2 separate regions of the Homo sapiens genome follow, and region 1 is linked to region 2. Evidence: fine-mapped expression QTL. Tissue or cell type: whole blood. Region 2 holds a variant in brackets; the other region holds the start of a gene. All regions are shown on one strand. Distances are between the middles of the regions.

Region 1 (8,107 bases), 210 kb after region 2:
GGGTTGGTTGGGGGAGGTTTTGGGACAAAACTGTTCCACCACAGATCATCAGACATTAGATTCTCATAAGAAGCCCACAATCTAGATCCCTCGCATGTGCAGTTCCCAACAGGGTTCAGGCTCCTATGAGAATCTAATGCGCCACTGATCTGATGGAGGCAGAGCTCAGGTGATGATGCTCCTTCGCCCATCACTCACTTCCTGCTGTGTGCTCCAGTTCCTAACAAGCCACGGATCAGTACCTGTCTCTAGAAGAGGGATTGGCTACCCCATTCTAGAGACAGGGTCTCCGTATATTGCTCAGGCTTGTCTTGAACTCCTGGGTTCAAGTGATTCTCTCACCTTGGCCTCCCAAAGAGCTGGAATTACAGGTATGAGCCACCACCATGGCCGTTATTTCTATTTTTATCACATTTACAAACACTATTGTCTCTGTTATTTAAATCTCCATCAACATTCTTAATGATTTCCTCAAGGCTGTTTTATTCTTTGCCCTCCTTGCACCTCCCACCGGCTGTGCTCACCTGGTGCCCGCCCATCCATGTCTTCCATGCAGTCTTGGTAATGCTTAGCAAGGAGGTAATACAGTTGAGTCAACTTAGGGGCTTTCCCAGCTTCCACAAGAGCTTCTGCTGTGGCCAAGTGCATCACTGTGTCGTCACTAACTCTCCACCTTCCCACGTCTAGGGCATCCAAGCCGCCCAGCTGGGCCAACTGCCGGTGTATCTTCTCCCCATCCTGGAGGAACTCCCACTTCCCATTGTAGTACCCCAGGGCATCTCCAGCTGCACTCAGCACCATAGCAGCCACATACTTCTCCATCAGTCCCTCACAATTGCTGGGCTCTGGAGAGGGTGTCTTTGTGGGGAAATTAAGACAAAGGAAATAGGATGAGGAGCAAGAAGAATCAGAAAAAACAACGACTCTAGCTATGTTTTATTGAGCACTCACTACTTGCAGACATTGTATCAGTGGCATCTCATGTAATCCTCATCACTGCTCTATGAGGAATATAAAGCCCATTTTATGTATGAACAAATGGAGGACCATGGAGATAATGCAGTTTGAGAAATGTTCAGTGACTTGTCTCAGGTCACAGAGCCAATAAGTGGCAGGGCTGGGATCCCAACATAGGTCCATCTGACTCCAAAGTCTATCATCATAACTACAACTGTATCTCTTGCCTCTTGGTGAGTAGTAAGCCCACTAAATTCTGCAAGTCAAACCCAGCTCATCATTTGCTCTTCTTAGCTGGGATTTGGCCTTAGAAGTGCAAGGCTTTACACTTCCTATTAGTGTCACAATGTGTAGTTCACAAAGCACCTGCACATTCATTGTCTCACTAATAGGGAGGGATTACAGTATGCATTTCACAGATAAGAAAATGAAGGCTCAGATAAGCTAAATTCACAAAACAAGAGGAGTGGAAGTACTGGAACCCAAATCTGATTCCAGCCAAGCCAGGATGCTTGGTATCACACCACTCAGCCTCAGTCCAGATCTTCTTACCTTGGGCAACCTCTTGGTGCCTCAGCCTCCACATTTATAAAATGGCACTGATTTTAAAAAGTAACAACCTCCTGGATTTGTTGTTAGGAATAAATAAATTAAATTTCATAAAGTTGGCTGGACGCGGTGGCTCACGCCTGTAATCTCAGCACTTTGGGAGGCCGAGGTGGGTGGCTCATCTGAGGTCAGGAGATCGAGACCAGCCTGGCCAACAGGGTGAAACCCCATCTCTACTAAAAATACAAAAATTAGCCGGGTATGGTGGTGCATGCCTGTAGTCCCAGCTACTCAGGAGGCTGAGGCAGGAGAATCGCTTGAACCCAGGAGGCAGAGGTTGCAGTGAGCCGAGATTGTGCCACTGCACTCCAGCCTGGGCGACAGACCAAGACTCTGTCTCAAAAAAAAAAAAAAAAAAAAAGTTCTTAGAGTGCTTGGCACATAGTAAGCTTGATTTTTGACATATTTGTATTATTCATATACAACCAGGGAAAATGGGTGTTCTGTTTTAGAACTAGAACATTTTCTCCCCACAACCTTTCCTTCGACAGTAATGTTTAAATATTGTTTCTCTTAGAAATGATCAGCTTCTAGAGAATTCGAATCTCTATTAATAATATACCCACCATGAATGAAATCCCTGGTAAAGCGCTGGCTTCCCTGTTGGTGCATTTCCTAAGAACCCCCCTCTTTCAGCCAATTCCTCAGGGTTCCCTTCTCCCTGTGGCTTTCAGGTCAAAGCCCTCCATCCCATCCAGGCCAATACTTTTATAAGGGTCTGGCAGACTAGCTCATTCTCCCCTCAGGTGAAACTTTTCCCTCCCCTCCACTTATCTAAACCCTATTTACCCAAGGTCTAGTTCAAGTCAGGAGGCTTCCAGAAGTGCTTCTGCAGCTGCACTGCTGTTGGCCATGGAATGCAGGCTGGAGAGCCCCTGGAGAAGGAGTAAACGACGAAGATGGATGCGTTCCACTACCCAGTTACTGGTAATGCTGAGTTTCTGAGCTCACAAAGGATATTTGTAAATGTTATTTACATAGTTTATTATTTACAGTGAAGCCTAGGCACTGAGATTCTGGGCTACTAGACCTGACAGACACCCGGGACAGCGGTTTGCCCATCTGTAAACTGGAGGGGGAAGTGGGGAGGTATAGGCTCTCGGAAGTTCCGTCCTGCGCTGCGATTTTCAGACACTAGGCCAAGACACTCTGCTTCTTGGCCTCGGAGGACTAACTTTAACCCCCCATACCCTCCCTCTCAATGTCCTCATTGTCCTTTCCGTAATTCCTTCTGGCTCCACCCTAATGTGTGCTTCTGTGAATTGCAAGCTGGGATGGGGGAAGAAGACCGGCATCTTTTTTCGGTTGTAAATTCCCTTTAACGTTCGCTTTCAGAACGCTGTAATTACTTAACTCCTCTGAACTTTCACGGGTCACATTCTCGTACCCGAACTATACATTCAGAACTAAGATCTGATCAGCTGCTTCCGGGCCATGCCCGGCTTTGGAAAGAAACGGGGCGGTTGACACGCTCCCACGATTTGCAAGACTGGGAATCCTCATGGTCGGCCACACTCGGAGAGCGCCAGGGGCGGGGGAGGGGAGCGCGGGGCCGAGGGCCGGGATCGCGATACCTGCTGTAGCCTGGACTGGAACGCGCGAGCGACGGGCGTGGCGCGGGCTCCCGGGGCCGGGGAAGAGGCCTTGGCTGCTGCGGGTGGACGAGGGCGCGGGTTGGGGCGGAGCCGGGTCACCGGGTTCCGGGACTGTCCCCAGATAAGCAGGGTGGCGGCGAGGGCCCCCGCACCTGCGCTTGGCCGCGCTGAGTGAGCTAATCTTGGAGCCTCCAAGGCGGCTTCCTGGCACCGCCGCGCCCTTCTGCACCCAAGCGAGAGTGGACGGGACCTCCGTCGCCCGCCCCAAATGCTCTGAAGAGCCCGGAGCCTGGTGCCCGGAATGTGGCGGCACCGGAAAGCCGGCTCTCGCCTGGCTGTGGTCAGTGACTCCCGTGTGGCCCCGGCTGACGCCTTCGCCCGTGCTCACGTCCGACTTTGTAGGACTGTAGTGGACCGGGTGTGCCCAGATGCTTGAAGAGCGTACTGAGTGTGCCGCCCTTGCCAGGGTTCTGGGCCCTCACGCATAAAGTGGGATAATAATATCTGCCTCTTAGAATGGTTGTTAAGGATTCAGTTAGTTAATTTTAACTAGTCATTTATTTGGCAGCAGCGTAGAATTCTTGTATCCTGATCGTAAATAAAAGCAAAGAAAAACGAAGAGTATTTTTGTCTAAATACATTAATCATGTCACTTTTAAAGCAAATCAGAATCACCATATGCAAATATTCTATATATTTCTCCAAAGTTTTAAATTTGCTATGCCTATTTTCTTGCTGTAATGACTAGCCTTGGTCTGAGAGCTTTTTAAAAAATTGATATATAATTTATATATAATGAAATGTCCTTACACCATAATCGAGATATGAAATATTTCCATCACTTTAAAACATTCTCTTGTGGCCTTCCCAGTGAATAACCATCTCCATCTCCAACTCTAGCCTAAGTGACTTTTGAGTGTTTACAAAAATCAAGTTCACCAATAAGGGAGGCAGAGATCACCTCCAACCCCCTACACCCTCTAGCTCTTAGTGAGCTAATCAGCTGCATCTAGAAGCCAAATTGACACTAGGCAGATTAACAAGAGAAAAGTATACAAATTTTATTAATTTTACATGTACATGGGGATGTTAAGAGACTGAATCCTGAAGAAAGTGTCCAAAGCAAGATGCTTTTATACTTTTTAGAAAAAGAGTGATAAATTTAAGAAGAAGTGACAGGACAAAGAAAATCCGGCTAGGGTGGTAAAAAATTTCTAGGGGAGCCCCTAGGAGATATATGGGGGGTGGGGTGTAAAACAGGTGGAAGATAATGGTTACTTTGCAAGAATGTTTACTCCAGTCCAAATGCCACCTCCAGTTCCAAATCTCTGGTGATGAGAGCTATTTTCTCGCTCTGGCGTGGAGAACATACCTCTCCTAGAGGAATCTTTATTGCTGGCTGCATGCAGGAAGAGACAGCTCAGCTCCTGTCAGGGAACCAGGCTCATTTGTCTTTCACACAGTATGCCAATCACTGAGGCGCACAAGTTTTGCAGTAGAGAAAGGGTGTATTCACAAGGCAGCCAAGACAGGAGACTGGAGAACAGGCCTCAAATGTGCCTTTCCAAAGATGGAATTTTAGGAGTGCTTATGGGATAGGGGAGGAAGGTGGTCCAAGGTTCAGAGAAAGATGAGGTAAGGAAAAGTGAGGCAATCGGTAATCTGAGCAAGCATAGTCAATCTTCATGGCTGTTCATAGAACACATGTTCACAAAATCGTGACGTTAGCATGATCTGAGAGTGGAGTTTTGGGCCTTCTGATGTCAAAAGGTCACCCATTGGACACTCACGCAGGCCAAGATGAAGGGCTGGTGGCTTGAACTGGACAAGAACTGACTCTAAGTTCCTGAAAAATAACTTAAGCAATATTTTCCATGGTGTCCTATCAGAGAAGTTATCTATAAGGAGGCAAGTGGAATTTAGTTATGTATCGTCTAGCTACATGACTTTTAGCTATGCAGGTTTTAAAATCGACTAGAAGCAAGTGACCAAAAGCAAGCAAGGCAAATTAAGTGTCAGGCCTAATCAGGTCAGCCCTCAGTTTTACCCTTTCTGAAACTATAATTTCTCTAATGTTTTCAACTCAAAGTAATCAATATATTATATGGCATATTTGGGGATGGCACATCCTTCATTCTTTCAACTGTCAAAGATTTTCAGCCTCTGAGGATGCAGTCAAAGCAAGTTCTGTAGTAAGAGACATTTTGAATAATAAGCATCCCGATAAAACTCAACACAGTTTCAGCTTAAGATGTCTGCTGAGGATATTGTTCATATTATGTAGTGATCTTTCTGTGAGAATCCATGGGAAAGGGTGATTTTTTGTTTTCGTTTTTGACTTAAATGTAAAGAATAACTGGGGCTGGGCACAGTGGTTCATACCTGTAATCCCAGTACTTTGGGAGGCCAAGGGGGACAGATTGCTTGAGACCAGGAGTTCGAGACCAGCCTGGGCAACATGGTGAAACCTGTTCTCTACAAAAAATACAAAAATTATCCAGGCATGCGCCTGTGGTCTGAGCTACTCAGGAGGCTGAGGTGGGAGGACTGCTTGAGCCCAGGAAGCAGAGGTTGCAGTGAGCTGAGATTGTGCCACTGCACTCCAGCCTGGACGACAGAGCAAGACCCTGTCTCAAAACACAAACAAACAAACAAAAACAAACAGAAAAACTGGGGTTGTTAGCAATTAGTTTGCTTTGAACTTTATGGTGCCTATGAACTTTGTGACCATTAGCATAGACTCCCGACACATCCACGCTATCTGGTTTCAAACCCTTGTAACAACACTTGGGGGCCAGGCACGGTGGCTCACGCCTGTAATCCCAGCACTTTGGGAGGCCAAGGCAGGTGGATCATGAGGTCAGGAGTTCGAGACCAGCCTGACCAACATGGTGAAACCCTGTCTCTACTAAAAATAAAAAATTAGCCGGGCATGGTGGTGGGTGCCTGTAATCCCAGCTACTCGGGAGGCCAAGGCAGGAGAATTGCTTGAACCCAGGAGGCGGAGGTTGCAGTGAGCTGAGATCGTGCCACTGCACTCCAACCTGGGCGACAGAGTGAGACTCCATCTCAAAACAAAACAAACAAACAAAAAACACTAGCTTGAGTAAGTGATTTTAGACAAGTCACTTCATCTTGCTAAGCTTCACTTTCTGTTATTAAGTAGGAAAAATAATAGTACATATTTCATAAAGTTGGTTTGAAGATTGCATGAAATAATTAATTGAAAAATTTTAGCACAGTGCTTATCAATGTAGTAGTCATGCAAGAAAAAATTACTACCAGGTCAGATATCTCTCTGTATTCCCAGTTCTCATCTCCATCACACACATGAGCCATTCTACCTTCTTTTCACATTAGTTAACACCTACTGACATCCTTTCTCTTCTGTCAAAATTAGAAAATGTTTTTGGGCATCAAGGACATTGTCCTATAAACCAAAAGGATAATTTATCAGTTAGCATGTTTCCAGCTCCAAATAACGGCAAATAACCATCACTCTTCCCCACCCCCAAAACACCACATACTCACTGGGCTTAAATAATAATGGCACTTATTATCTTATGTAACAAAATGTCTAAAGGTAAGAAGTCCCAGGGTTAATTTAGCAACTGTATACTATCATCAAAGAAAGACCCTGTTCTTCTTATCTTTCTGACCTACTATCTTCAGTTATTTTTATCCCCAGACTGACGTTTTTAATTGGCACAAGATCATATTTTCCCCATTTTAATTTATTTTATCAAATGTATATAGAGGTCTTATCCTTCGGTTTGTTTTTGTTTAAACCATTTTGCTATTTTGTGTCTGCTAGCGAGCCCAAGAGGCGTTGCCTATTAACCATTTACTGTTAATTTCTTCGAAAATTTTTGTTTAGCTCTGATTATTTAACTAGGCAGTCAAGATAATGTGTATGCATAATAACACATTGCAGTTACAGTTATAGACAGTGTCCAGTGGAAAAAGAGAGTGTTTCTTCTTTCAAGATGAAGAAACTATTCTCAAAGATCCTCCAGAAGTCTAAACCAATTCCTGGCAGGCAGGCTGGATTATGATGTTTCCCTTAGATCAAGGATAGACACATCTTCCCTGAGAGGTAGAGGTAGGTTCTTTTACAAAAATCAGGGTTTGTTTGCAAAGGAAACAGTGAATGTTGTTCTGCCAAGAAGAACAAATAGTTACTTGGCATCTTACTAGGTGCTAGGCATTAGTATAGGTCCTGGAAAGACAAATATATTGCATAGTTGGTTCCTTGCTCTTAGTTTTATTGAGGAAGACACATCATAGGCATCTTCATTACTCACCAATACAGAATCAATTGCTATGCTGAGGCTGTTGCTGAGAAATAAACTTGTAGCCCTCGGACCTGATCTTAAGATATTTCAGACACTTCATCTATAAGGTCGGAACAATGACACTGTTCTTAACAAACTGGTCACTTACAAGAATGATCTTTATACATTCTTCAGACATTGAATACCTGCTGTGTAAGTATATGCTAGGCCCTGACAGCCCCTGCTCTTCTAGAGCACCCAAGTGATCTCATTTTTCGGCTGCTAACATATTTTTAAAATTACCAAAAAAGTGTTTATATGTTTTCTTAAATCACGTTATTGAGATATGACTGAGATACAAAAAGCTGTACATATTTCGGGTATACAACTTGATGAGTTTGAAGATAAGTAACCAAAAGTAGCTGCTCACATATCCTGTGTTGTCAATTCAATTCAAGAAGATTTAGAGAGCATCTGTGATGGCTAATTTTGTCAGCCTAGCTAGGCCACAGTGCCCAGATATTTGGTCAAACATTGTTCTAGATGTTTCTGTGCAGGTATTTTTTAAGATGAGATTCACATCTAAATCAGTAGCCTTTGAGTAAAGCAGATTACTCTCCCTAATGTGGATGAGCCTCATTCCAATCAGTTGAAAGCCTTAATAGAAAAAAG
Region 2 (8,107 bases):
ACAAGCACATGAAAAAGTACTCAACATCGTTAATCATAAGGCAAATGCAAAGGGAAACCATAATGAAACATCACTTTATATTCAGGATGGCCGCTATCACATAAACAGAAAATAACAAGTGTTGGCAAGGCTGTAGACAAATGGGAACCTTGGACTCAGGTGGTAGGAATGTAAAAATGGTGTAGCCATTATAGATAACAATATGGCAATTTCTCAGAAAATTGAAATAGAATTATCATATAATTCAGCAACCATTTCTGGATGTATATCCAAAAAGAACTGAAATCGGGGTCTTGAAGAGATATTTGTACACTGATGTTCACAGCAGCACTATTCGCAATAGACAAAATGTAGAAGCAACCCAAATTTCATCAACTGATGAATGGATAAACAAAACATGGGACATACTACAATAGAATATGAGTCAGCCTTAAAAAAAAGGAAATTCTAACACATGCTACAATACGGATGAACCTTGAGGACATTATGCTAAGTGAAATAAGCCAGTCACAGAAAGACAAATATGAGGTATAGTAGTCAAGCTCATGGAAGCAGAAAGTAGAATGGTGGTTGCCAGGGGCTGTGGGGTGAGGGGAATGGGAGTTGTTTAATGGGTAGAGTTTCCATCTTAAAAGATGAAAAACCTCTGGAGATTGGCTGCACAACGATGAAAACATACTTCACATTATTGAGCTATACACTTAGAAATGCTTAAGATGGTAAAATTTGTTATTTGAATTTTACCAGAACTAATTAATTTTTCAATCCTGCTCCTTCTGTATATTTTACAAATTAAAAAAAGAACATCACCAAATAAATGTTGATCAAATATTTAAATAATATTTAAATTGAATTTAAATTGAAAAGGAAGCCAAAATAGTAGACTGGTTGGGGTGCCTCAGTCCTGCCCTGTGCATGGCAGCCACAGTGCACTCAGAGAGAAGGCAGGACAGGGAAGCTGTGAAGCAGGAAGGGCCCCGAGGAAACAGAAGTTGTGAGGAGGAGAAGCAGCAGAAAGAAAGGAAACAAAGGAAAGTAACATCAATAGTTGATATGGTTTGGCTGTGTCCCCACCAAAATCTCATCTGGAATTGTAGCTTGCATAATGCTACATATGTGGGAGGGACCTGGTGGAAGGTAATTGAATCATGGGGGCGGTTCCCCCAATACTGTTCTCATGGCAGTGAATAAGTCTCATGAGATCTGATGGTTTTATAAGGGGAAACCCCTTTCGCTTGGTTCTCATTCTCTCTCTTGCCTGACACCATGTAAGACATGCCGTTTGCCTTCCACCATGTTTGTGAGGCCTCCCCAGCCACATGGAACTGTGAGTCCATTGAACCTTTTTTTCTTTGTAATTTACCCAGTCTCAGGTATGTCTTTATCAGCAATGTGAACATGGACTAATACAGTAGTTAAAAGCACTACAATCAGGAAGAAAAAGATAACCATGTCAATTAAAGTGCATTTGATCCCAACCTGAGTTCTGAACTACATTTTAATCTCTAGGAGGTCAGGGCCCTGGCAATTGAGATTTTTGCCTTCCTTCTCTCCCATGCCTGCTTCAGAAGTGCCCCCGTTTAAGGTAACCTGGAGCCTGTGCTTACAATCTAAGAGAGTGATGCTCCAGCTTTCAAGTACATACAGATCACCCAGGAGCTTATGAAAATGCAAATTCCCATTCAGTAGGTCTGTGGTGGGTCTGAGCTTCAGCATCTCACAAGCTCCCAGGTGAGCTGATGCTATGGGTCTGCAGTCCACACTTGCAGTAGTAGCAGGGAAATCCAACTAACCAGACAGAAAATTGGCAGTACACAAACAGACTGGCATGGAGAAGATGATCTTGTCAATAAAAACAACTTTATGGTGCTAGGAAATAAAATAAATAATCAAAGAGATATGTGAAATGACTCACATTATAAATTGTTGTTTAAAGTCAATATACAGGCCGGGCACAGTGCCTCACACCTGTAATCCCAGCACTTAGGGAAGCTGAAACAGGAGGATCATTTGAGGCCAGGAGTTCGAGACAAGTCTGGGCAATACAGTGAGATGCCATCTCTACAAAAAAATAAAAAATTAGCCAAGTGTGGTGACATGTGCCTGTAGTCCCAGCTACTTGGGAGGCTGAGGCAGGAAGAACACTTGAGCCCAGGAGGTCAAGGCTACAGTGAGCCATGATTGTCCCACTGCACTGCAGCCTGGGCAAGAGAATGACACCTTGTCTCAATCAAATGAAAATAAATAAATAAATTTGTATAATGATGGCCAGGGATGGTGGCTCACACCTGTAATCCCAATGCTTAGGGGGGCTGAGGCAGGAGGATCACTTGAGGCCAGGAATTTCAGATGAACCTGGGCAACAACATGAGACTTTGTCTCTACCAAAAATAAATTTTAAAAGTGTCTGGGCATGGTGGCACACACCTGTAGTCCCAGCTCTCTGGGGGGCTGAGGCGGGAGGATCACTTGAGCCCAGGAGTTCGAGACTGCAGTGAGCCATGATCATACCACTGCTCTCCAGCCTAGGTGACACAGCAAGACCCTGTCTCTTAAAGTAATAATAATAATAATTTTTTAAAAAGTCAATGTACTTTGAGGGTGAGATAGTTCCTTCCCAGGAAAAGGATGTGGGGAGGACATACAGATAAATTTAGTCTTCAAATGAGTCAAAGCACAAGCTTTGGAACCAGGTCACTGAGATTATGGGAAGAGAAGAGTGGGCAACTTGAATTTGAAGCAACAGAGTCTAAGTAAAAGGGGGTAAATGGATAAAAAAACAAAAATCATAATCTTTGGGATAGAAACTCTTGGAGATAGCAGGATTATATTTAATTATGTGTGTGTGTATACATACATATACATACACACGATTACATATATTTAATTATGTGTGTATACACACATATATATACACACACGCATAATTAAATATATATATAATCATCCTACTATCTCCAAGATACACATACACACCACACACACACACACACACACACACACACACACACACACACACACACACATATTAATAGCAGAACTGGCCAGAGGATAAAGAGAAAAAAGCAAGTAAGGGGAATGTAATATAAGAATACTGAATTTCTAAGATGCAGGCAAGTGATGCCTATAAAACCATTGACGTTGTTCAGTGAAGGGAGACGTTTGGTGAATTTAACTCACATTTGCACAAGTTTTGCTGTTTACAAAATGATTTCAAAATTACAACTTCATGTCAAGGTGCCTGTGAGGAAGGCAGGGCAGGGCTTATCCCAAGTTGAATAAGGGAGTCGGGGGCAGGGCAGTTCTTATTATCCCTTTTGCAAATGAGGAAACTGGGGCTCTGGGGTGTGTTCCAGTTCATGAAGTCAATTAATGACGGAACTTTTTTTTTTTTTTTGGAGGCAGTCTCACTCTGTCCCCTAGGTTGAAGTGCCATGGTATGATCTCTGCTCACTGCAACCTCCACCTTCTGGGTTCAAATGATTCTCGTGCCTCAGCCTCCCAAGTAGCTGGAATTACAGGTGTGTGCCACCACACCTGGATTATTTTTGTATTTTTAGTAGAGACGGGTTTTCGCCATTTTGGCCAGGCTGGTCTTAAACTCCTGACCTCAAGTGATCCACCTGCCTCGGCCTCCCAAGGTGCTGGGATTACAGGCATGATCCACCATGCCTGGCCAGAACATCTTTTCTTTTCCCTTATTCTGATTCTTCCTGTCATGTAAATAGATACATGATGCAAGTTGTTTTTTCACAGAATTCATGGGGGCAAAATGAGGCTATATGTTTTAAATTCTTTATGAAACAAATCAAGTATTATTAACAAAACCTCCTCACTGGCCCTGGCATGGGGCAGGCCTCCAGAGGAAACTCAGATAGCCAAAGTCACGGTTTATGAATTCAAGAAAGAGAAGTCAGCTGCTCTCTTCAGGGGGCCATAAATGAAAATTGGCCTTTATGCTTCCTGGGACTTGGTCATCAGATCCAAGAGGTCAGAAGGTTACTAGACACAGATCAGGGTTGAGAGCTGGCACCAGCCCAGGTCATAAGTACACACAGTACCCTCTTCCAATATTTAACAGGACACAGTGGCCTCTGAGTTAACTGCCTATGTCTTATCAATGCATGTGTAGTGCCAGTGTTGCCTGTGGTTTTATAGTTTGACTCTTTGGAACTTACACAGATCCAGGAAAATTATTTCAAACATTACATGAGGGATTTGGATATGTCTCTTTATGTCAATTTCCAGTTGGATATTCAGTTTGTTATATCGATGTTTCAAAGAGGTTCAGGAGGTGTTGCAGGGAACTTTTCCCAGCCCCCTTCAAATTGTGCCACCTAAAAAGCCCCTGTATGCAAGAGAGGTTCCCTACACATTCCTCCTGTCCTCCCCAGGTTGTGCCCAGGACACCAATATCTGAAGTGTGAGGGCAAGAGTCTGATGGCTCAACAAACAGAACGTGGCAACCACACTAAGAATTTGAATTAATGTTGTCCACGTTCCCTGAATTTATTGTTCTTTTTAATGGAAAAATCATGGGTCTGCATTCCAAGGGTCCTAGTGGCTATTGGATCATCTCTGCTTCTATCACCCTTGGGATGAGCTATATAATTAACTATGGAGATATGATAAGGAAATTAATCAATGCTTAACAGCATTTAATAAAACTCAATATTCATTCATGATTTAAAATTCTTGGTTAA[C/T]CAAGAGGAATAGAAGAGAGCTTCACTAACTTGATATGGAATAGTTACTAAACACTTTTACTAGCTATCTTATTGGAGAAGCATTAGAATCAATCTCATTAAAATAAAAAATAAAGATTTTATTGCTGGCACTATGATGGAGAAGTTGGTTACAGAAAATCCTCCTGGTATGCAGCACCTAGAAATACTAAATTTTTAAGAATGTCATTTTTCATGCAGGATTGAGCTGGTAGGAAAGTAAAGGAAGTCTCAAGAGGCCAAAATTTATAAGATTATGCTAAGCCAGAGGCATGAGAAAGGGAAGTCATGATCATCCTGGAGTTTTCTGGACTCCTGTAGGCCTGGGGCCTGGATTTTAATGGTAGAATAGGAGACAAAGCCTGGAGCCTAACCAGATCATAGACTATAAACTCAAGATCCCCTAAGGGTGACATCCTCAGTAGAAACCATGGAGGGAGACAGGTCTATCCCAGGCCTTCTCAGCCTTGGCTCTGGGTAGAGCAAAAAGAAAAGTCTCCTTTGAAATTCTTAACAACAGGCCTGCAATCAAGTAAGTTTGGGTCAGGATTCTCACTATTTGTGTGGCCAGTAGACCCCAAGCTTATGGTGGTCCCAGTTAGTTCTGTCCTCAGGTTCCTGGCAAAAGCAAAAATAAATCCTCTAGAGGAAAACAATTTCAATCTCAACAAGTCCCAAAGAGAAGTTTCCAAATGAGTTCATAGTACAAAATAAAAATGGAAATCAGGAACATGACAAGAATTCCTAGGACATCTAAGTGTTTGTAAAGAGTATCTCCTAGAATTGTGCAGTATAGAACCCACACAACTGTATGCATCACTTCTGAGACTATCTACTTTCATGGCTACTACTCAGCATTATGCTGAATGGCAAAGAAAAACCAATAAGACACAAAAAATTAAGGTTTGTAAAGATTGGAAAGGAAGGAGCAAAACTCTTACTATATATAGATGATATGTTTGTCTAACTAGAAATTCCAAAGGAATCAACTGATAAGCTTTTATAACTATTAAGAGAATTCCATAAGGTAACTAGGCAAAATATCAAAACACAAAATAGATTTTCTATTTATTGGGGGAAAAAATCAAGTAGAAAAGGTAAACATTATAGTGGAAATTGGCTCAGGAATAGGAAATAAATACAAAAGGACACAGAAATGGACATGTGTAAGTGGGAATTTAGTACATGATAGAGGTGATATTTCAAACAAATAGGAAAAAGATGGACTTTTCAATAAATAGTATTGAAATAATGTATTGCAATAAGTGCCAGGTGAATAAAGACTAACTTTTTAAATAAAAGTATTACAGGAAGGTGCACCAAAGTAGCTTCATAATTTTGGAAGTTGAGAAATCTTTTAAAAATCAGCCTCAAAGAGTAAAATCCAGAAAGAGGGAAACTAACAGATTCAACTACATCAAAATAACAACAACAATAATAGTAAAAATTTCTGTTGGCTAAAAAGTATGATTTAAACAAAGCTTAGAGAGAATATTACACACATATCAAATAATTTGCATTGAGAATAAATAAAAAACTCCTACAAAGAAGAAAAAAAATCCGACATAAAATAAGCTAAGGATATGAATAGGTAATTTAAGAAGAGAAATACAATGGCCAAGAGGGGTCCTATAAAAAGAATGCTCAACTTCATTAATAATCAGGGAAATTAAAATATTGAAATAATGGGTTGTCATTTGCACTAATTCAATGGAAAAAATAATAAAATACTGAATAAACAGCAAGCATTGTTTGGAGTGTGGAGGAACAGTAACTATCCTTCTCTGCTGGTGGGAGTACAGTCGGTTCGGGTACTGTGGAGGGCTGTTTGGCAGCCAAAAATTGAACCACATATATCCTGTGATGTGGCAATTCAACGTCTTAGTAGTTCCTCTAGTGCAATACGTGCACATGTCTAGAAGCAGACAAACACAGTGAGGTTCATTGGTAAGACTGAAAAATTGGAAAAGCTTAAATATCTATCGAAAAGAAAACGGCTAAATAAAAGAAGTGTACACTGTGAAATATGACGTAGCAGTTAAAATAAATGAAGTAGAGCTCTATACAGATATGGAAAGTCTCCAAGTCTTGCTATTGAGTGGAAAAACAGAATTAGAACAACATGGCAACAGATAGGTTTAATAGTCCATCTATGCATAGATGAACACACACACAGACACAATGGTCTGGCAGTAAATATATCACACTAAGTACTTTTGGGGAAACTGGAGATTAGGATTGACAGAATGGCCAAAGGTGAATTTAGGTTTATCTATACTGCTTTCTCATTTTCAAGGAGCATGAAATCATGTATTACTTTATAATTTAAAAAGTTATTACCTAAAAAACCTAGTCTAGTCAGTTTTGTGGTTGTCTTGGGTTTATTCCATAATAATTTTGGAACAAGTTGACAGCTTTTAGATCAGGAGTTGGCAAACTTTTTCTGTTAAAGGCCAGATAGTTAATATTTTAGGCTTTGTGGGCCATACTGTCTCTTTCGCAATTGGTCAATTTTGCTGACTCAATGAATCAGCTATAGCAGGCACTATTCCTCTCCCACATGGCCTCTAATGATATGGCCAGAGTTGAAAGGATGTTGTAGGGCAAAAACAGCCATATACAATACATAACGAATGGGCATGGCTGTGTTCCAATAAAGCTTCATTTATAAAAACAGCTGGTGGGCCAGAGTTAGCCTGTGAGCCATAGTTTGTCAACCCCAGGTTTAGACTTTTATGACATAACTAAAATATTTTTAAAGCGTATTTGTGTACCACAAAATACTTTTTCCCATTAACCAACTGATTAAATAAGCCTCTGAGGCCTCCCTTAGCATCCTTTCAACTCTGACCATATCATTAGAGGCCATGTGGGAGAGGAATAGTGCCTGCTATAGCTGATTCATTGAGTCAAGACTCAGTGGCCTCAGAGGTGTCTGTTGACCTGTCCTAGATATGGAGTGGCCTTAAAGCAGTGCCTCTGGCCATAGCTTCAGCCGAGCTGGGCTGTAAAGTGGAGAGAAGAAGGACCTGGTGGCACTGACCACATGCAGGCAAGACTCGGTTCTGTGGGACAAGGTGCCCTTTCAATAGTAGAGGTAGAAAACTCACTGGTTTGAAGCCAACTCAGCCGCAGCACTGTGCAGGGGTATGGCAGGTGCTCTGAGGGACCCCTCCTTGAAGTGGTGAGTCCTGGTGACTGTCATGCTGCTGTCCTTGGCCTCAGGGGGCTGCCAGCACTAACCCAGCAGGCCAAAAGGAATCAGGACTGAGTTGATCCCAGTTCCCATAGTCCCCAGCTCCCACAGTCCTTGGAGGTGGTATTTCCTGGGTCCAGGGACTCCAGCCCTGTAACAGGGAGCTGGTTGTATGTGTGACTTGTGGTAA

Evidence for each region. PIP is the estimated chance that this variant, and not a neighbour inherited with it, causes the effect.
Region 1: ADPRH starts here. The variant in region 2 is fine-mapped to the expression of ADPRH in whole blood (INTERVAL, PIP 0.96).

The regions. Positions count from the first base shown.
Region 1 is chr3:119,574,885-119,582,991 of GRCh38, reverse strand. It overlaps ADPRH (ADP-ribosylarginine hydrolase), which reads right to left and starts at 3,500. Exons shown (of 5, transcript NM_001125.4): 1 at 3,141-3,500; 2 at 2,356-2,441; 3 at 525-858. The coding sequence starts at 822. RefSeq lists enhancers at 584-883, 47-1,246, 2,351-2,570, 3,511-3,610, 3,395-3,896 and a silencer at 3,191-3,330.
Region 2 is chr3:119,782,577-119,790,683 of GRCh38, reverse strand. All of the region lies in intron 1 of NR1I2 (nuclear receptor subfamily 1 group I member 2), which reads right to left. Among named protein-coding and RNA genes, the nearest start is that of NR1I2, 4.5 kb to the right of the region's middle. The variant C/T (reference allele first, on the strand shown) is at 4,704.